4 linked regions of the Homo sapiens genome follow. The protein of the gene in region 3 purifies or fractionates together with the protein of the main gene of each other region. This does not show direct contact. Each region holds a gene or a part of one and is shown on either strand. Other genes may lie near its edges.

Region 1 (5,105 bases), on a different chromosome or scaffold from region 3:
TAGTACTGCTTAAACCGTCCCTCAGGACCTGGTATCTAGTGGTGAGTATTCAGTGCTTTTGAAGAAACAAGGCCATGCCCTCACACACTCCTGACTTCAGAGCAGCGATTTTCCCTCCGAGGTAAGTTGATTAAACATGTTTTGCTTTCAGTGGGAATTTGTTTTTAGTCTTTTTGAGAACTGCTCTTTTCATTCTTTTTAAGTATGAGTCTTGCTAACATAAAGCTGACATGAGTGTGATCTGTTTCCCTTTGTGACATGCTTGAACGGTCCAGTGTTCACGTCATTGTAGTTTCACCACCTGACATTGGCCGTGTTGTTATTCCTGTTGAATGCCCAAAAGTCCATCGTCAGTGTGGGCTGCTTGTGGGCATTTGGTGGGCATTTCTGTGAAAATTTCTATAGATTAGCTCGGGATATTGGGTTCAAGTTTCTTCTTCCACTGGACCTGATGGAAAATCCACTTCTCAGCGATGCCCCGGACCGCACAGCGATACTGATTCTCGGTTGTCTCTTAGGCTGGAGAATCGGGAAGGGAGAAGGCTACGCCGATCTGGAATATGCCATGATGGTATCCATGGGCGCCGTCAGCAAGGAGACGCCGGTGGTCACCATCGTCCACGACTGCCAGGTGCTCCTTATGAATGGGCTGAGCAGAGCCACTGCCATTCTCTTCTGAGGGAGCAGGGGGTGGGGAAGGAGACTCATCTGCTTCTGAACCATGCTGTGTGGCGAGTGGTGTGGATCAGCCAGGGCTGGACTTGCTAGTGGTACAGCGGCTAAGCCTTAGCCCCAGAGTGGATTTGGGGGTGCTTCTCTAGCCAGCCTCACGTTCCCACCGAGCGGGGCAGTGTGCACGACTGCAGTGGCATTCCCAGCAGCCCCTTTATCCCTCCTCTCTTCCCCCAGGTCGTGGACATCCCTGAAGAGCTTGTTGAGGAGCACGACATCACTGTGGACTACATCCTCACTCCAACCAGAGTCATCGCCACAGGCTGCAAGCGCCCAAAGCCAATGGGAATCACCTGGTTCAAGGTGGGTCACGGCAGTGGCCAGCTCTGGCCTGTAGCTTAGCGGCTCCTCCTCTTTTAAGTGTTTTCTGTCTGGCATGGGAGCTGTTGGCAATCCCAGCATGGCTGTATGTTAGAATCACCCAAGGAGCTTTTGAGCAATTTGGCTCCTGAATGACCATGTCCAGGCCCAGGCCTAAGAATCTGCGTATGGATCTCTGGGATTCGAAAAAGCAGCTAGGTTTAAAATCTGCCTCTGTAGATGGCAGAAATGGCCACATGGGCTGGGAGGGTGAATGCCTTGAAGCTTTACTTGCCCCCTGTTTTTCATTTTTAAGAGTTGTTTTCTGCCATCCCAGGCGCAGCAAGCTCTGCCTGGTGTTATCTCATTGGTCTTCCCTTTTTAAATCCAGATTTTTTTTTTTTTTTTACTGACGATCTGGATCTTCAAGCAGATCTAGCCTGAGTAGGAGGCAGTACCAAGCCTTTGTACATTTTATGCATTTGTGGTTTTTATCTCCAGATTAGGTAATGGCACAGGTTGCAAATTAGTCTGCAGTAGGAGTTTGACCCTGCAAATCAGCCTGTAGGTTATGATGCTGTCTCTGCTGGCAAACAGCCAGAATTACTGAGAAGACATTTGTGCTTCGTGTGGACAAAACTACTGGTCAAATAAGCATACGTGTCCACGTCTCCCATTCTTTAATCCCAAATCATTCACCGTTTGAATCCCTCCTTTGGGCATGGAAAATTAACAACATCACCTCTAAGGATGAACACAGAATACCTGCTGCTTTTGCCACAGCCCAGCCGGGACTTTCCCTGCAGGTGTCCTGGGCAGGCACTGCTGGGGACTCCCAGGTGTGCACTCCTCGGTTGGCCGCTGATGAACGCAGAGGGAACAGCCTTTGTAACCCAGAGTGTATGGGCGGCCCTCTAAGCGCACCAGGAGCACTGGGAAAGAAGGTGGTCACTGCTCTTCCAGGAAATGAAAATATCCCTTGATGTCTTTCTTAAGAGTCTTTCACTTGGGAACTCTGGTCCACAGCTTCCTTGTAAGTGGAAGCCAATGCACGAGACAGAGCATAAGGCTGGCGGCTCCTCAGAGCCGAGAACAGGGATGGTGGGAAGGTTGCACAAGGGCATTAGCCACAGCGAAGCTGCTGGCAGTCCCTCTAGGCCTGCGCGTCATAGAAGGGGCCCATTGCAGCCGTATTAGGGGGAGCCTGGACAGCCTCCTCTGGCAGAGAGCTAGGAACAGCCTGGTTACATTCTGAAGATTTTAACTAGAAAAGTAGCAACAAATGAAGTCATCGGACACGTTAGGTGAATATATCCTCCTACAGAAAAGCAAACCAAACTCAGCCAGGGTTCCTGAGGGTCAGCACTGTGGGGGAGGGAGGGCATCGGGGGCTTCGCTGTTTGTCGAGACCCTCTTCCAGGAAAGTCACTGTTTATGAGGCCTCAGCAAGAATCTCAGACTTTTCAAAGGCCATCTCTCATTTTGGGTCCTGTGTTCTCAGTTTCACCACCTGATAATCCCTTTGCATGGTCAGAGGAAATCAGTCACTTTCTACAGCTCCCAGTGTTTCTGTTTTAGTCTCGCTAGCCATGCAGCCAAAGTGAGTTTCATCAACATTTGTTGGGAGAAAAAAAAAATCTCTAAATTCCATTAAAGAGTTTGAATGTGGAAGGCGGACAGTTCAGTGCTAGGTTATAATATTGTTTCAAATTGACTTTGGCAAATATTTGGCATACCTCTCCATGATATTATAGTGATAGGTTTATAGGTTTATAGGTTTTAGAATCTAAGAATTTACCTCTTGGCTATCTTACTGGAATATCTGGGATGCATTATAGATCTCTTGATGAAGGATGTGAAGGAAGTACAAACTGCCTTTTCTTCACCCATTTTCAATACGCAAAGACAGTTCAGCATCTAATTCCCTGGCCTTTGTTCCACCTTTCCAGTAGTTGACGTCCTGCCCTGTCTTACAGACCAGTCTAATACACGCTCTGTTTGAGTGCAGTTACTGTAAACAGCGCATCTCCTTGATTGACCATCAACATCCGGTGGGCTCTTCTCAGCTTGTGTCTCATGATTTTAAAGAAAGGAAACCAGGTGGCCAGTGAGTGTATTGCTGAGTTTAGCAGTCAAGAGTTTCCCACTTCATAGCTCTATCTGTAACTTCCAACACACTCTCCAAGCCCTCTCGTTTGTCTTAGAAATAAAGGCAGTGCATGTAGAATGCCCAGGACGATGCTTGGGAGCATGGCCGCAGTCAACATCACTGTCGCAAATGCGAGGTAGGCTGTTAATAAAGTTGAGAAATCTTCCTGGACGCCATGCATGTTTCTTCTTTCTCTGTGCTGCTGGCAGAATTCTTAGGATGGTCCTTCTGGGTAGCTCACTGAGCCAAGATGGGGTCCTGCACGTGTCTCCCTATGGCCACGGGTTGTACCTCTCAGTGGAGGACAAGGAGAGAAAGGCACTGACCCCGGCTCTCCAGCCCTTTGGCTGCTCCATACCGCCTGTGACCATGCAGGTGCTTTGCAGAGACCCCCCACAAGTAGCCGTTGTTCTTCCTCCTCCATATCATCTTCAGCAAAGGAAGCCTGGTAGGGTTGGGTAAGGGGCTTAAAATGCATTCCAGCACTCTGCACCCTCATCAGAAACTTTCTGGCAGGAAGAGAGAGAGGTACAGAGACATTCCCCAGAAGGCTCTGCTTTTGCTCCTCCTTTCTAGAAGGCACATTGTCTGCTCTGTCCTCGTGTGCTCTTCTGTCTCTGGGGGCGATCGCCTCACCCACAGACCCGTGAAACTCAGGGTGACTTGGCCACATCCAAACCACAAGATGCATAGCCGCTGCTGCCCCATCTCCCAGTCACCGTACCCTGAAAACCCAGGACTCCCTGAACCCCTAGCTACACCAAGGATCTCTGCCAGGCTGGAGATGGTACCAGAGACCTGGGCCTGAAGCTGGAACGTGGTCCTGAACCTCTGGGCAGTTCGTCCAGCTCCATTGATCTTCTGATCCTTGGAGACAGTCGTGCGATGTCTCTCCCTGTGACAGCCGTGTGTCAGGTAGTCTGTAGTGGGCTGAGAGCCATTTGGCTGCCTCAGCTCTGTGCCGTAGCAAACCGAAAATGGCTGAAGCCCTGGACCCGCTAGTGTCGAGCAGCCCTGGCCACTGACCAGTGCCTGCCCTTGTCGGGAGTGAAATGCAGAGTCCCAGCCAGCTCCCAGGGCTGAGTGGTGTCCTATGAGTCACTGACAACAGAAGAACGGAACTTCCTGTTGAGACCCGTGGTCACCTGCTGGACCCGAGTGAGCACCTGGACAGCAGCAGCAGGTGAAGCCTCTGTGGGGAGACCCGGGTCTGCCACTGCCGCCGCCACCCTGGAAGCTCTGTTCTGCCCAAGCTGCACCTGGACCGTGGAGACCCACCACACCATTGTAGTGTTTCCCTAGAGCTGGCCTGAGCTGGGGGCAGGAATGATATATGTTAAGAATACCTTGGAGACAGAGAGGAATGGTAGGACATGGCTACAGACTCCAGAACCTCAACTGTGCCGAAGGCAAGGCCAGCCTGAGTGGGAGACTGAGGGCTCAGGAGAAGCCACTCGGGCACCCACAAGCCTGTGGTCCCCGTCACCAGACCCACAAACCAGAGGGCCTTTTGGCCTTTGCCCAGTGGAAGGACTGTCAGTCACACACATCTTCTCACCCGTCCTGTGCTCCTCACCATCAGCACATGGCTCCTGATTACCACGGGGTTGGCGAGGACACCATAGACCAAGGCCCGTGCATCTGACTTTCCTGGGTCAACTCATTTGCTCCTTAATGAGGGAAACTGGATTCTTCCAGAGCCACGCTCGTGCTTATACTCAAGGAAACAATTCTGTAGCTTTCAAAGCATGGCCCGCTCTTCCCCACACAGCCTGCTGGGGAGTGTGGTTCTCAGATGGCCACAGTATGCTGCATGATCTACAGATACCTCAAGAAAAAGGATTTGAGAACAGGGCTCCTCTGTGAGCAGCAGTCCTGGGACAGCAAAGCCCAATTTCAGATCCCGCATAAAACACAATTGTTC
Region 2 (5,105 bases), on a different chromosome or scaffold from region 3:
CATAAAAACTCAGATCTTTGGCATCTCTTTAAAAAAAAAAAAAAAAAATCAGAGGCTGGGTACAGTGGCTCACGCCTGTAATCCCAGCACTCTGGGAGGCTGAGGCGGGCAGATCACAAGGCTAAGAGATCGAGACTATCCTGGCCAACATGGTGAAACCCCATCTCTACTAAAAATACAAAAATTAGCTGGGCGTGGTGGCACGAGCCTATAGTTCCAGATACTAGGGAGGCTGAGGCCGGAGAACTGCTTGAACCCGGGAGGTGAAGACTGGCAGTGAGCCAAGACTGCGCCACTGCACACCAGCCTGGCGACAGAGAGAGACTTCATCTCAAAAAAAAATCAGAGTATGAGTCCACCACCGAGGTGTGTAGTAGCTGCTCCCCGTGGATGGGGCAGGCCACAGACCCTGCTACTCCTTTTGATGTCCTTACCACTGCTGCCTGTCAGTTACCGTTTAATATGATTTGTATTTTGTATTATGTTTTATCTCATATATGTTTTTTTTACTCATTTACCTAAACTTCCTGACTCTTGCATGCATCTGAGTTCAACTTGTGCTTATAATGGTCAATGTGAAAAGATTCCTAAAAGCACTGGGCATAATCCCTCCAAAACAGGTCCCAAGAAAACAAAAGGGACAGGATGTGAGGGTGACAGTAATTACCTCATAAAGCTGCTATAAGAACTGAGTTAATATCAATAATTATAAAAGATCTGACATATGGAAGTATTATACATGTTTGCTATTATCGTTTTACCTCATTATCCTCTTTGATTCTGAATAGGAACAGCAGTTTCCTGGCAATCTTGAAAATACAAAGTGCACTTCTTTTAGTGGACTCAGGGTCATCTGCTTTAAAAAAGTCATCAATCTCTCTCCTAGAAAAGAAAGTGCAAAAAAAGACATTTTAAATTAACAGCTTGTAGCACCTGGAAGGCTTTTCAAGCACTTTATGAGAAAAAACTCATTTATCTGCTATTAATTGGGAGCCAGAGAATCATGTGCTAGGGAGATCCTAGCCCTTACCTGATATCTCTCTGCAGTCGACTCCGACAGAGAAAACTCCGGACATGGGCCTGGATCACAACAGCTGCCCGCTCCCGTTCCTTCTGCACAAGCCTTTCTTCTCGTGCCTGACGGGCTCTATCGATGAACCATGCTCTCGAGGTCTGAGACAGGGTGAACATGTTTGCAAACTTGCACAAACCCTGCAAGGAAAATGGGCAAGTGGGTGTTGTAGATTGTTGTGTGAAAAACACACACAGAAAGGGGCTCAAGAGCAGAGGGTGGGCAGGGACCTGGGCAGCAGAGATACTCAGGACCTGTCAACACCCTCCAAAGCGCTAACAGCTCTCCGGCACAAGTCCCTACCTCCTATAGGCTCTTTCATGCAACTCACCAAGACCAGGGATGCTACATCCTATATTAAATAATCACATCTTCTTAAGGGAAAGAGCACAGCACCTGGCATAGGATAAGGGCAGGCCCAGCTTTACGAATGAACAAAGAATGAATCAGTCCCACCCATAAAGCTCTAATTCAAACCAGGTATCCTATAGGTCAAAGATTCCCAGATATTTGAATTTTCTGGAGTAGTCCACAGTATTTGGGAAACCAAAACTGAGAGGTCAGCTTTTATTTTGCCAAGTAAGGACTCGAGAGAAAAATCCAACATGATTATTTGCTGTCATCATCATTGTATTCATCCATTCACTAAACAAATATTTACCAGTGCATACTTTGTGACAGCACACAAAAAAGAAAGGGCCATTTCAACATTAACAAAGCAAAAGGTACACACTTCAGAATGCAAGACAGTCCATTATATTGAAGATATTTGGTTTTATGTATAGCTTATTCCATTGTCCTTACAATTACCATCCTGCCAAGGACCAGTGAAGACTTTACTGTAGAACTGGTCCTGTCCACTAACGGGTGCTTTTCTGAAGAGCAGCTCTAAATTATATACTAAGTTTTTATCTAAATCACCAGTAACTGTTTTTTCCTAAAGGAACAGCTTTTGCTAGCAGCCTAAAGCACACAGCACTGACCCCCGGAGGCTCCCATATTGAGATGATTTCTTTAGATGCTTGATGACATTGCCATTCTATACAAAATGCACAATCAGCCCAGTTAAAAACACTGAAATGAATTATTCAGAAATCCAGACTTCCAGAAAACAATCTCTCTACCAGGCTACTTTACTTGAAGTAGCACCCACATGAAAATATCATCCAGAGTAAAAAGTCGGATGGCTAGAACTAGGGGCCATCTATCCTAAGTGAAATAACTCTGAAACTGAAAGGCAAATACTGCATGACCTCACTTAGAAGTGGGAGCAAAACAATGGGCCCACATGGACAAACAGAGTGGAATAAGATAATGGAGACTCCAAAAGGTGGGAGATGGGACAGGGGTAAGGATTGAACAATTATTTATTGGTACAATGTTCACCATTCGGGTGATGGGTGCCCTAAAAGCCCAGACTCCACCATTACACAATATATGCATATAAGAAACCTGTACCCCCTACATCCATACAAAGAAATTTAAAAATTATTAAAATAAACATTGGACTTAATAGTATTATCTCCTAGAGGTATTAAATTAATTACGTGTTATTGAAAGGCATTTAATAAGTGTGCTCTATTATTAGTATTAATAAGGACAATAAAATAATACCCTTTTATAACCAAAAAAAAGTTGGTGCAAGCCTCCCACCACATGAACATATCAAGGGACCTCTGTGACCCCTTCTCAACAGTGATCTGTCAAACATCATCAGTAATCCTTGAAACAAACTAACAGAGCCCACTTGACCACAGGAGGGAAGGTATTAGGTTGGTACAAAAGTAATTGTGGGTTTCAACTTTTTTAAAAAAACACTAAGTCGTAATTACTTTTGCACCAACTTATAAAAGGCTTGGAGAGAAACGGTAGCCATCTTCTGAATCATTTACGCTTCCTGCCCCAGCAGTAAAGTCTGGAGATCTCACCTGAGGACCTGCCTGTGTCGCAGAAATGCCAGGTAATCATTAGTGATCTTGCACAGGACTCGTGGCTGAGAACAGCTTCTCACTTCAGAAAAGCTTGTTATTTTTTCTGGCAGAAGCAGAAGAAAAAAATCCAGACTTAGGGTTAAATTTTATAGGTGTGGTATCATACATCTTCCTCACTGAGTAAAAGTAGTAACTACAATGCCAATGGTTTTTTAAAAACACCACTGGGTCCTCTTTATTTAATGTCTCATCTAAATGTTATACTGTATCTCTTCAATCCTCACAGTTTAAAGGGAATATGTTGAAAATAAATCCCAAAGTTGTTGTTGAATTACAGCTGTGATGGGAAGCAAAATAACTTAGAGGTCATGGAATGTTAAAGAGCTACTGAAAATTATATTTGACATTTTCCTTTTTTTTTTTTTTGAGATAGTCTCACTCTGTCGCTGAGGTTGGAGTGCAGCGGCATAATTTCAGCTCACTATAACTTCTGCTCCCAGGTTCAAGCGATTCTCCTGCTTCAGCCTCCCAAGTAGCTGGGATTACAGGTGTGTGCCACCATACCCTATCTCAGTTGGGGTTACAGGTGTGAGCCACTGTGCCCGGCCATGTTTGACATTTTTTTTTTTTTTTTTGAGACGGAGTCTTGCTCTGTCGCCCAGGCTGGAGTGCAGTGGCGCGATATTGGCTCACTGCAAGCTCCGCCTCCCGGGTTCATGCCATTCTCCTGCCTCAGCGTGTTTGACATTTTTAATGATAATGGAAAAACGTTTATGCCTTAGAAGTGAATAAAGGGCTGCCTGTGGACCAATAAGACCCCAATTACCTAAAGAAAAATGTACACACACACAGATACAAAACTAGCATGAACTATACCAACATGTTACCAGTGGCTGTTTTGAGGTACTGAAATTGCGGGAAATTTTTCTTAATTGGTCTGTATTTTCTAAATTTTCCACAGCATGCACATGGTGAAGCAGCACTGCACAGTGAGGGGCACACGGGCTTTGGGAGTCACACAGAGTTGGAGCCAGTCCCTAGCTCTGCCACATACTATAGGGAGAATGTCTAAGTCTTTTTTTTTTTTTTAAGGCAGGGTCTCGCTCTGTCATCCAAGCTGGAGTGCAGTGGTGCAATCATGGTTCATTGCAGCTTCTACCTCCCAGGCTCAAGCGATTCTCCCACCTCAGCTTCTCAAGTAGCTGGGACCACAGGTACATACCACCACATCTGGCTAGTTTTTAAATTTTTTGTAGAGGTGGGGTCTCGCTATATTGCCCAGGTTGGTGGTCTCAAACTCCTGGGCTCAAGAGATCCTCCTGCCTTGGCCTCCCAAAATGTTAGGATTACAGGTATGAGCCACCACACTGGGCCCTGAGTCTTTCCATCTTCATCTATTAATTGGCTTAGAGGTTGATAATGAGGACTAAATGTGATGATGCTTATCAGGTACCTATGGAGGTACTTGAGTGCACATTGTAGAGTGTATAGTCAGGAAGTCTAACTGGTGTATTATTTTTATAGACACAAGGATTAAAAAAAAAAAAAAACTCTTCAGCAGAGGCTCCCACCTGGACAGTTACTAAGGTTCTCTGGGTAGGAAATAATGCTGGCAGTCTGACATTTCTCACCCATTAACTTTTTTCCTATCTTAAATGCACTAAGATTCACCAGTCCTGTCCCTTGGGCTATGAACTCCTGGCCCTGTTGTTTAGAGTGAGTAACAGATTCAAGCTCCTCAGGACTGCAAAAGAGCAGGGCCCAAGCCACAAGCACAATGATATGCTCCCTCCATGACATGCAGACAGTGCCTCAATGGCAGAGGGTCCATGGAATTAGAAGGGGAAGAGGGAGCCTCTTCCCAAAAGAAAAACAAAGTTGCATGCAAACTGTACCTAAGCACTGTAAGACGATCTTAAAACTTTCACTTCTCCCAGGGGCCCTCCCAGAATAAGAAATTACTCTTATCCCCTTCCTTGAGATTATTATCCCTTCAGCAATGTTATTGGTTGATTTCTGTTCATATCATATAATAGCCTACACTTTACAGTTTTTCTCATCCTTTCCTATATACCTTCTCCACCTGCACAGTGTATACTATA
Region 3 (5,105 bases):
GTGGTGGCTCACGCCTGTAATCCCAGCACTTGAGGAGGCCAAGGCAGGCAGATTACTTGAGGTCAGGAGTTCAAGATCAGCTTGGCCAACATGGTGAAACCCCGTCTCTACTAAAAATACAAAAATTATATGGGCGTAGTGGCGCACACCTGTAATCCAAGCTACACGGGAGGCTGAAGCAGGAGAACCACTTGAACCCGGGAGATGGAGGTTGCAGTGAGCCGAGATCGCACCACTGTACTCCAGTATGGGCAACAGAGCGAGACTCCATCTCAATAAAAAAATAAAAAATAAAAAAATTGCCGGGTGCGATGGCTCACGCCTGTAATCCCAGAACTTTGGGAGGCCGAGGTGGGTGGATCACGAGGTCAGCAGATGGAGACCATCCTGGCTAACACGGTGAAACCCTGTCTCTACTAAAACTACAAAAAATTAGCCAGGCATGGTGGTGGGCGCCTGTAGTCCCAGCTACTCAGGAGGCTGAGGCAGGAGAATCACGTGAACCCAGGAGGCAGAGCTTGCAGTGAGCCGAGATCAGGCCACTGCATTCCAGCCTGCGTGACAGAGCGAGACTCCGTCTCAAAAAATATATATATATAGATAAATAAAAAAATAAAAAATAAATAAAATAATAAAATAAAATAAAAATAAAAAAATAAAGAACACTTCTTAGACCAGGAGACCAGGGAAGTCATCCATGAGGAAATAACACTCCAGCTGATTTAGAGAGTATGAGTAGAAGGTAATGAGACAGAGACAGCAGGGGAGAGACAGTCACCTAGAGGAAACTGAATACGCGAAGACTCTCTGCTGACACATTGGCGGCTAGGAGGCTGGAGTACAAGGAGCAGGGAGAAGGCTTCAAGATGAGGCTAGAAAGAGAGACAGGGGCCCGACGGCAGGGCCTTCTTGTCCATGACAGTGATAAGGTTGCTAGCCTGAGAACAATGGGAAATCAGTGACGGTCTCATAGATGCATGTTTTGGAAGAGCACACTGCTTGAGGGTGAGGCAGCTTCTTCAGTAGTCTAAGCAGATATGACAAGGGCTTAGATTGGAGTGGCGGCCATGGAGAGAGAAATGGATGGCTTCAAAAAATATTTAAGAAGTGAAATTGGTAGGACCTGGTCCTGCATTCATTATGAGTAAGGATGGAAAAAACAGAGGATTCAAGGATGACTCCCAAGATTCTGACTTATACCACTGGGATAAGGTGATGCTTTTCCCTGAGATAAGGAATCCTGAGTGAGGGACCAGCTGAGGGGACCAATCACGATCTCAAGGACCAACTACATCTTAAATCATCATAATACGTATTAAGTACCTATATGGTAAATAGAACTTTGTCACACCACCACTAAATTAGAAGACTATACCTGAGAAAGAGAATGTTTGGCACTTAGCACTAGTAAATGAGAACAAAACAGATCCCTGCCCGTGGGTTCGACTTGGATGGAGTGGCTGAACAAAACACCATTGACCTTAACTTTCATGTCGGGCTATCTATAAGGAGCTGTACATTTTCCACTCCCTCTCAAGACTCCTATTAAAAGGCTCAAAGATCCCAATTCAGCAGATGAGCTTTGGACAGATTTATTCTTCGAGCAAAAACAAACAAACGAAAAACTATAGGTTGCTGCTAAGTGGAACACACCATCATCCAAATGACTCCTATTTTTTAATGTTTATACTAGATTCACACCTAGCAAGGTAGAACCCTCAGACTCCACTCTCGGCAGAAAATTCAGCGCATTCAATGACAGAATTGTGTGTTTCAGAATTTCTGAGCCCATCCATTCATGAACAATTGTCTTCAGCTGCCTCTAAGTCCAAGGCGAGCATTTTGCAGGTGAATGTTCATATGGCTCTGACGCACTTGAGCAGCACTCTGCAACTCCCCACCTCAGGAGCCCCGGGCAAATACAATGGCAATCCTACGAGGTTATCTCCGGAGGAGGAATTTTAAAATTAAAATGTTGAGTTGCTATTCTGATTACTCCAGAAATTTGCTCCAGAAGCAAGAGCAATGGTTTTTTTCCTTTCCTCCCACCACCAACAAACCACTGTAGAGCAGGCAGTCTCAACCTTTAAAAGACCAAAACCCCTCTTTAGCTTACATGCACCCTGATCAAGCTACGAACCGTGGTTTGTTTTTCCAAAGGAAGTTCAACTCTATAATTCCGTCTCCATCGTGGAAGAACTCACAAATGACACATAATATACGCCTCATATCGCTTCCCCGGGTTCCCTCACAACTTTCACAAACCCTCAGGGATGTGAACATTATGGTGCCAACTCCGCAGATCTTTCTTGCCTAATAGATGTTTGTGGAACCAAAATTATACGAAAATAAGTTAAAACAAAACAGCCAACTAGTCAGAACAGCAGAGGGGTCATAAGTGTTCTTTGTTATTGTTGTTTTTACAGAGGGACAACGAATAAACAGGACTTGTGGTTAGAAAAGAAGAAGAAAAATGATTATGACCATCTTCAACTTGGGCAGAAATTGTAAAATCTTTCTATGACCCAACACTGTCCTCTAGAGGCCGTATCCAATTTGTTCTTGAGTACAAAAACATGTATAAGCAATGGCATTAAAAACAATAAAATTATACAATAATTCTAAGTACAGAATTCATGGAATGTTTAATATAGACACTATTTTATATTATAAAAGGATTTTATATTTGAATAACCTTTGGATTTTAGAATAGTTTTAGATATACAGAAAAGTTCCAAATATAATACAGAGTTCCCATATACCTCTCTCACTCAGTTTCCTCTATTTTTTTCCAGTCTTACTGAGGTATGATGGACAAATAAAAATTGCATATATTTAAGGTGTGCCACACGATGTTTTGATATACATATACCTTGTGGAATGATTACCACACAGGCTAATTAACTTATCCACCGACTCACTAGTTACCTTTTTTGTATGTGTGGTGAGAATACTTGAGAACTACTCTCTTAGTAAATTTCAAGTATAGAATAATTATTAACCATAGTTACCACACTGTACATCAGAAATTGTTTTTCTTATCACTAAAAGTTTGTACTCTTTGACCAACATTTTCCCATTTCCTCTACCCCCACCCCCGGTTAACTACCCATCTACTCTCTGTTTCCATGAGTTTGACTTTTGAAAATGTAACAGAGATCATGCAGTATTTGTCTTTCTGTGTGTCTGGCTTATTTCACTTAGCATAATGTCCTCCAAGTTCATCCATGTTGTTGCAAATAGCAGGACCTCCTTTTTTAAGGCTGAATAATATTCCATTACATACGTGTGTGTGTGTGTACATATACTATCCACTCATTTGTTTATAGACACGTTGTTTCCATATCTTAGCTACTGTGAATAATGCTGCAATAAACATGGCAATACAGATAGCTCTTAGAGATTCTGATTTTATTTCTTTTGGGACTTATACCCATAAGTGGGATTGTTGGATGATATGGTAATTCTATTTTTAGTTTCTTGAGAAACCCCCGTACTGTTTTCCGTAGTGGCTGTGCCAATTTACACTCCCACCAACAGGTTCCTTTTTCTCCACACCCTCACCAACACTTTTGTCTTTTTGATAGTAGCCATTACAATAGGGGTGAGGTGACATCCCATTGTGGTTTTGGTTTGCATTTCCTTGATGAACAATGATGTTCATATACCTGTTGGACATTTGTACATCACCTTTGAAAAAATGTCAGGTCCTTTTTTCCGTTTTTTTTAATTAGGTCGTTTTTGTTTTTGCAATTGAGTTGTCTGAGTTCCTTATATGTATTGGAATATTAATCCCTTGTCAAATGTATGGTTTGCAACATTTTCTCCCATTCCATAGGTTGCTCCTTGTTTCTTTTGCATGCAGAAACTTTTTAGTTTGATGTAGTGCCACTTGTTTATTTTTGCTTTTGTTGCCTGTGCTCTTAGTATCATATCCAAAAAATCATTGCCCAGACCAATGTCAAAGAGCATTTTCCCTATGTTTTCTTCTAGTTTTATGGCTCCAAGTCTCACATTTAAATCTTTAATCCAGCTTGAGTTGATTTCTGTGTATGGTGTGAGATACGGATCCAATTTCATTCTTCTCCATGTAAATAACAGTTTTCCCATCATCATTCATTGAAGACACTATCCTTTCCCTATCGTGTATTCTTGGCACTCTTGCTGAGGATTAGCTGGCCATTTATGCATGGCTTCATTTATAGGCTTTCTATTCTGTTCCAATAGTCTATATGACTGTTTTTGTGCCAGTACCACACTGTTTTGATTACTTTTGCTTTGTAACATAATTTGTAATTTCATTTGTGATACAATTCCTCTATTGTTAACTCTTACATTATTATGGTACACTTGTCATAACTAATGAATCAATATTAATATATTATTAGTCACTAAATTCCAAACTTTATTTGGATTCCATTAGTTTTTCTAAAATGCATTTTTCAAATATGGTATATTCCAATGTCATAAAAAAGAACAAGAAGAATAGGGTAGATGTTTAATCATGCTGATACCTTGATCTTAAACTTTCAGCCTTTAGAACTGTGAGACAATAAATTTCTATTGTTTAAGCCACTCTGTGTGGTGCACTATCAAAGCGGCTCTAGCAAACATTATAACTAACATATATTCTAAGTGTATATGACATATTTTTAGCCAAAGACTTTGAATCACTATCATCAAGCAGAAGTCTGATCAAGTTTGAATCACTATCATCAAGCAGAGCAGATATTCAGAATTCAGAACTGTATTTCACGCCTGTAATCCCAGCACTTTGGGAGGCTAAGGTGGGCGGATCACGAGGTCAGGAGATCGAGACCATCCTGGCCAACACGGCGAAACCCCATCTCTACTAAAAATACAAAAATTAGCTGGACATGGTGGTGTGCACCTGTAGTCCCAGCTACTCGGGAGGCTGAGGCAGGAGGATCTCTTGAACCCAGGAGATGGAGGGTGCAGTGAACCAAGATCGCACCACTACACTCCAGAGCAAGATTCTGTCTCCAAAAAAACACAAACAAACCAAAAAAAAAAATGTATTTCACAGAGTTGATGCAGAAATGCAGAAAAAATGGTGCAATTGGGACCTATTTTCTCCAGGAGAA
Region 4 (5,105 bases), on a different chromosome or scaffold from region 3:
GGGATTATAGGCATGAGACATTGTGCCCAGCCTCTTCAGACTATTTTGAATATTCCTCTTTGAATAGTACTTTAAACTAAAAAAGTTTACATTTAATTGTTAAATTCATTTTTAAAATAAGAAAAGAACAAACTTTTTCATCTGACAAATATTTCCCAAGGTTTGAAAAAACAACACTGGGCTGTCAAGACTGAGTGAAAAGATTCAACATTGATAACTATTACTTGGATTTAAATAGAATTCCTAGAACATTAAGTTGCATAAGCTGCTTATAGCTTACAAGAGCTATGCTAAATTTAAACTTGCAGATATAAGTTTTTTTCATAATTCTAATTGGTAAGTTATGAAAATGTTTGACTTAAGAAAACGGTGCCTGTTTAATATTATTTTTCTTTTGTAAACAAGTTAAAAACCATTCCCCTAGGAATTCAAAGAAATACCTACATACACATACACTCCCCCACAACTTCCCCATGCCCTTAGGTAAAATTTCTTCATTAAATAGAATATTCTTCATTAAATAGAATTCTTCATTAAATAGAAATTCTTCATATAATAGAATATTCATTAAATAGAATATCATGTCTTCATGATAGCCTTTTTCTTTTTTAAAGCAAAAGCATATATTTATCTACCCCATATTCCCAAATAGAAATATTTCTACCCCCAAACTAAAGAAAGAAATGTTATTTCCCTTGAGTCACTTGGGCTAGAAGGAATAAGCCTACTGCCAGAATTGAACATAATTTTCTATCAAAGAACAAAGCTGAGCGCATTTCCCTTCCAGAAGGTGAGAAATTTTTTTTTTTTCTGGTCATTTAACTGCCTTTAACCTCTAGATCCATATTAATTTGCATGTTTGAATAAAAAGAATGAAATATCCTTCTAACCCAAATATATACTTCCTTATCCTTGACAAACAGATCTCAGCCACTTCCTGTGATGTTTCATTGCACTAAGTTGAGATCCTTTGCTCAGGAAGTTTCTCAAGTGTAAAAATATTGGATAAGAAAACAGAAACTAATCTTCAAGTCTGAACTGCATTTAGGCTAAATTGCTTAAAAACAAATGATCAGGGACACAGAGTTCCATCTCAGTGGCAGGTTCTAAGAGCAACTGAGCTATATGACAACTAACATCTCAGGAGAAAACTCTTCCAATAGTGTTATTTTTAAAACTTTAAAGGTATAGACCAAACTTGTCAAGTACATTTTTTAGTATTTATTTCTGGTCTGTTTCAACTCTCCTAATGACATGAAAGTGTTGTGATTGTTTTCTCTTAAAAGTCATCAACTGCTTGGGAGGCCCCGGTGGATCACCGGGTCAGGATTTCGAGACCAGCCTGGCCAGCATGGTGAAACCCCGTCTCTACTAAAAATACAAAAATTAGCTGGGCGTGGTGGTGCGTGCCTGTAGTCCCAGCTACTCAGGAGGCTGAGGCAGGAGAATCGCTTGAACCTGGGAGGCGGAAGTTGCAGAGAGTCGAGATTGTGCCACTGCACTCCAGCCTGGGCAACAGAGCGAGGCTCCAACTCAAAAAAAAAAAAAAAAAAAAAAAGTCATCAACTGCTTTGAAACCTTGAAAAATCTGTAGCATTGAAGAGGGCAGTAACCACAGCATATGCAACCATGAATCCCTAATGCCACCTCACAGAGTGCCCAGCACTTGACTGGTGATTAGCAAATGTCTGCTAAGTGAAGGAAGAAAGAATACTGTTTCCAAAAACCTTGGCAATCTCATTGAGAATGTCTTGGTATTTATTTTCGGATGACACGTGTCCAGTCTGTTCCAACGTCCGAAGATTCCTCTGGATTTTCCTCTTCTTCTGCTCAAGAGGCAGCTGTGCATCTTCAATCATAGATTGGCTATGCTTCATTTCTTCTGGAGTCCTGGAATCTATCATTGCACGGCTCACCATGTCCGTGGCATGGTCTACCTCCTGAAAAGAGAATATCAAGATGCTGAGTTTTCTCTGATCCCCTAATTTCACAGTTCATAAGCTACACAATGCAAGTTAATGTCAAAATGAAAGTAGTCCTCCAGCCAAAGTTCAGAGACTAGAACCAGAACATGTTCTTCCTGAGTTTTGAAGTAGGTCTTTGAAAGGAATTACTTCATCTTTTCGATAGCAAGCCTTATTTGGGAAAAATTCTCAATAGCTACTTTATTGCCAAGGTGACAAATCACTATAGTAATGGACATATTTTAATGGATAACTGCTACTTTGTTCCCCACATGGAAGGATTTCAATTCCTGGATAGGCTAGCTGAGGAAACTAAAACTAGATTACCTATTGAAATGTGGCTATGAGAACCCTGAATGTTCAGAACCCAGCTAAACTCTCACACATCAGCCATGTTTATGGAGAGTCCTAAACTAAACCAACAGTAAGGCAGTCAGAGAGCTTTATTCTTATAAGGGAATCACAAACCAGCAACTCTGAAAAACTTGCAAAGTTTCTTTGAGCCAAAGGGAATAAGAATATTCTAGCACATTATAAATTCCCAAACGATGAGTAAATGAATGAATGAATGAATACTCTTTGGATAGTCTGTTCAAGGAAACAGTAACAAAAAGAGACTATTGGTCTTCCCATTTCATTGTACTAGACAATTGACTGACCCAATAGATGAAGTCTAAGGAAACGACTATTAGTTAGGGACAGTAATCTTAGACACAGGACAGGTAGGTCAATATTATTGGAACATTATTACCAGGTTAGCAGTAAATAACAAAAGCAGCAGCCAACATTGTTGAGCACTTAATGTGCACCAGATACAGATGTACCCACTTAACATGTTTAATTGACTTAATCCTGCCTGTGAGCTGGGTACTATTATTATACCCATTTTACAGTTGAGGAAACTGCGGCACAGCAATGCTTCTAAGTGCACAGAGTTACACACCTAGGAGGTGCAGAGGTATAGTTGATCTCAGAAGTCTGTGTTCTTAGTCACTTATTCATGATACATTTAGGGGAAAATGAAAAATAGTAAGGAGTAAAAGTCTTTTATACTAACCTAGTATAATATTTTACCCACATTGTTTAAAACATACCCACATATTAACAAACGTGTGATTTGAAGTTTTGCTTTACATTTTTTATTAAAAATTTTTAAAAATTAGAGATGGGGGTCTCACTGTGTTGTCCAGGCTGGTGTTGAACTCCTGGGCTCAAGTGATCTACACACCTCAGCCTTCCAAAGTATTGGGATTACAGACATGAGCCACCATGCCCAGCCTTTTATATTTTTTAAATTAAAAACTATTACAAGGATTCCTTGGCAATCAATTAAATTAAGAATGATCCAGGAAAATTATGTGTAGCTGTGCTAAGAAATAGTTAATTAAATAATTAACTTTTGTTTAGGGAGCGGCAATTATTGGTACTAAAATAACAACCTTGAATTTATTTTAGAACGAACAATGACGTATTTTCAAAGATGTTAATAAAAAGCTAAATGCAAGATTGTTGTGAAACCTCACTTACGCTAACATAATGATGCTTTGACTCAGTGGACTCAACATTTGCTTCTGAAGCATTTGGAAAACATCTTTAACATGTGAGTCGCTTATTTGTTTCAAGTTAGTAAATACATAAAATGTGAAAGGTATTTTTCAATATCCTGTCAGCTAGAACTCTCTCAACTGACTTATTTGCCCATTATGATGAACATTTCCGGGCTTTGAAAAACCCAGAACTATCATCCTAGGTTAAGACAAAAGTATATTCGGCATGAATTTGGTGCTGTATTTTCTATTTCATTCCCATTGATACTTCATACAGGTTTATATATGGCTGAACTAAGTCCACTGCAGTAATAGATAAAATTCCTTACTTCCGGACCATGTCAGATACAGTTTCTCTGAGATAATAAACATATGGCATAAAGATTTATGAAGAAAATCAACACCTGTCTATTATTATTTTACACTTAAAGTCAAATTACCTGTTGCGCAGTTGCTGGTGTCTCTAAGATTTCTGTCAATGTGTTCCCTGGCTGGTTCCGGATCACATCAATTATCAGCTTCTTGGTCCTTAACAAACCAGAGAAAGAGACAGACTTTCAGACTGTAGTCCTTATGCACAAAAATCTGTTTCTCCTAAGAGAGTGCACAAACACATACAATACTGAAGCTTCAAAGATAATACCTTAAAATAAAACATTCTTGCGGATATTCACCAGGTCTGCTATAAGGCTCCTGAAAGTTTATGAATGCTTGATAATCAAAGTCTGGGCTTTCTGTGCTTGATGTTGTAGCATTATACTGTCAGTAACATGGGCACAAGTGTATCACAAGATTTCCTCTCTAAATACTTTTCCTTCTTTTTTAGACGGAGACTACTTTTTGATGGGCAGGGGGAGCAAGTGCTGCTGATATGGCCTGCTACTGCAGAGTGCAGGAATGATATCTAATATTCTCCTTTCCTGACTTTAATAGCACCTAGACTTCTGAGCTGGCTTAATACCTCATAAGCCTTTAGGAGCCAGACCAACTGTTACCTTTCCTACTATCAGAAAGCTATTAAAGAGTCTGAAGACCAGTGGGAGCGAACGTTCAGTGTGGGCTGTGGAGGCTTGGTCTGTCAGCTGACACAGCAGCGAGGAGGATGGTGTTCAAGGGCCTGAGCAACTAACAAATAGGGTTAACAAAGAAACCTATTTGTTAGGTCTTCTTCCAGTCTTCAGGTGGAAGAGAATAGAAGAGCTTCTCAGTAAACAGTAAAGAGCTGGAAAATTCTTCTGGAAGTACGAAAACCGTAGTTCTCTCATAGGTGTTCTTTATGGCAATTGGCCACCACTTCCTAGGGAGGCATCATGTTATGTAATTACGTACAAAGGTTTTAACATAAAAGCTAAAGGGTCAAATTTGCTCACTTTTACATAAGGTGGAAACAGTATTATTGGAAAAGGCTTTCCTTCTAAAAAGAAAAAAAAGGGCCAGGCGCGGTGGCTCACTCCTGTAATCCCAGCATGTTGGGAGGCCGAGGTGGGCGGATCACCTGCGGTCAGAAGTTCCAGACCACCCTGGCCAACATGGCGAAACCCCATCCCTACTAAGGATACAAAAATTAGCTGGGCATGGTGGCATGTGCCTGTAA

Evidence for each region. The genes of interacting proteins can lie anywhere in the genome.
Region 1: the proteins of DRC8 (region 3) and MTHFSD purify together in Homo sapiens (affinity purification with mass spectrometry; one large-scale study listed by BioGRID and IntAct). This does not show direct contact.
Region 2: the proteins of DRC8 (region 3) and UBE3B purify together in Homo sapiens (affinity purification with mass spectrometry; one large-scale study listed by BioGRID and IntAct). This does not show direct contact.
Region 4: the proteins of DRC8 (region 3) and IQGAP2 purify together in Homo sapiens (affinity purification with mass spectrometry; one large-scale study listed by BioGRID and IntAct). This does not show direct contact.

Annotation. Positions count from the first base shown.
Region 1 is NC_000016.10:86,537,627-86,542,731, reverse strand, and holds part of MTHFSD (methenyltetrahydrofolate synthase domain-containing protein), read left to right. Parts: exon of another isoform or gene 1-451; coding exon of another isoform or gene 452-518; coding exon 519-631; intron 632-909; coding exon 910-1,035; intron 1,036-1,533; coding exon of another isoform or gene 1,534-1,542; exon of another isoform or gene 1,543-5,105.
Region 2 is NC_000012.12:109,479,638-109,484,742, reverse strand, and holds part of UBE3B (ubiquitin-protein ligase E3B), read right to left. Parts: intron 3,107-5,105; 5' UTR 3,001-3,106; intron 1,213-3,000; 5' UTR 1,192-1,212; coding exon 1,031-1,191; intron 883-1,030; coding exon 762-882; intron 1-761. UniProt on the Homo sapiens protein: E3 ubiquitin-protein ligase which accepts ubiquitin from an E2 ubiquitin-conjugating enzyme in the form of a thioester and then directly transfers the ubiquitin to targeted substrates.
Region 3 is NC_000001.11:245,076,656-245,081,760, reverse strand, and holds part of DRC8 (dynein regulatory complex protein 8), read right to left. Parts: intron 1-5,105. UniProt on the Homo sapiens protein: Component of the nexin-dynein regulatory complex (N-DRC), a key regulator of ciliary/flagellar motility which maintains the alignment and integrity of the distal axoneme and regulates microtubule sliding in motile axonemes.
Region 4 is NC_000005.10:76,692,289-76,697,393, reverse strand, and holds part of IQGAP2 (ras GTPase-activating-like protein IQGAP2), read right to left. Parts: intron 4,040-5,105; coding exon 3,952-4,039; intron 1,941-3,951; coding exon 1,728-1,940; intron 1-1,727. UniProt on the Homo sapiens protein: Binds to activated CDC42 and RAC1 but does not seem to stimulate their GTPase activity. Associates with calmodulin.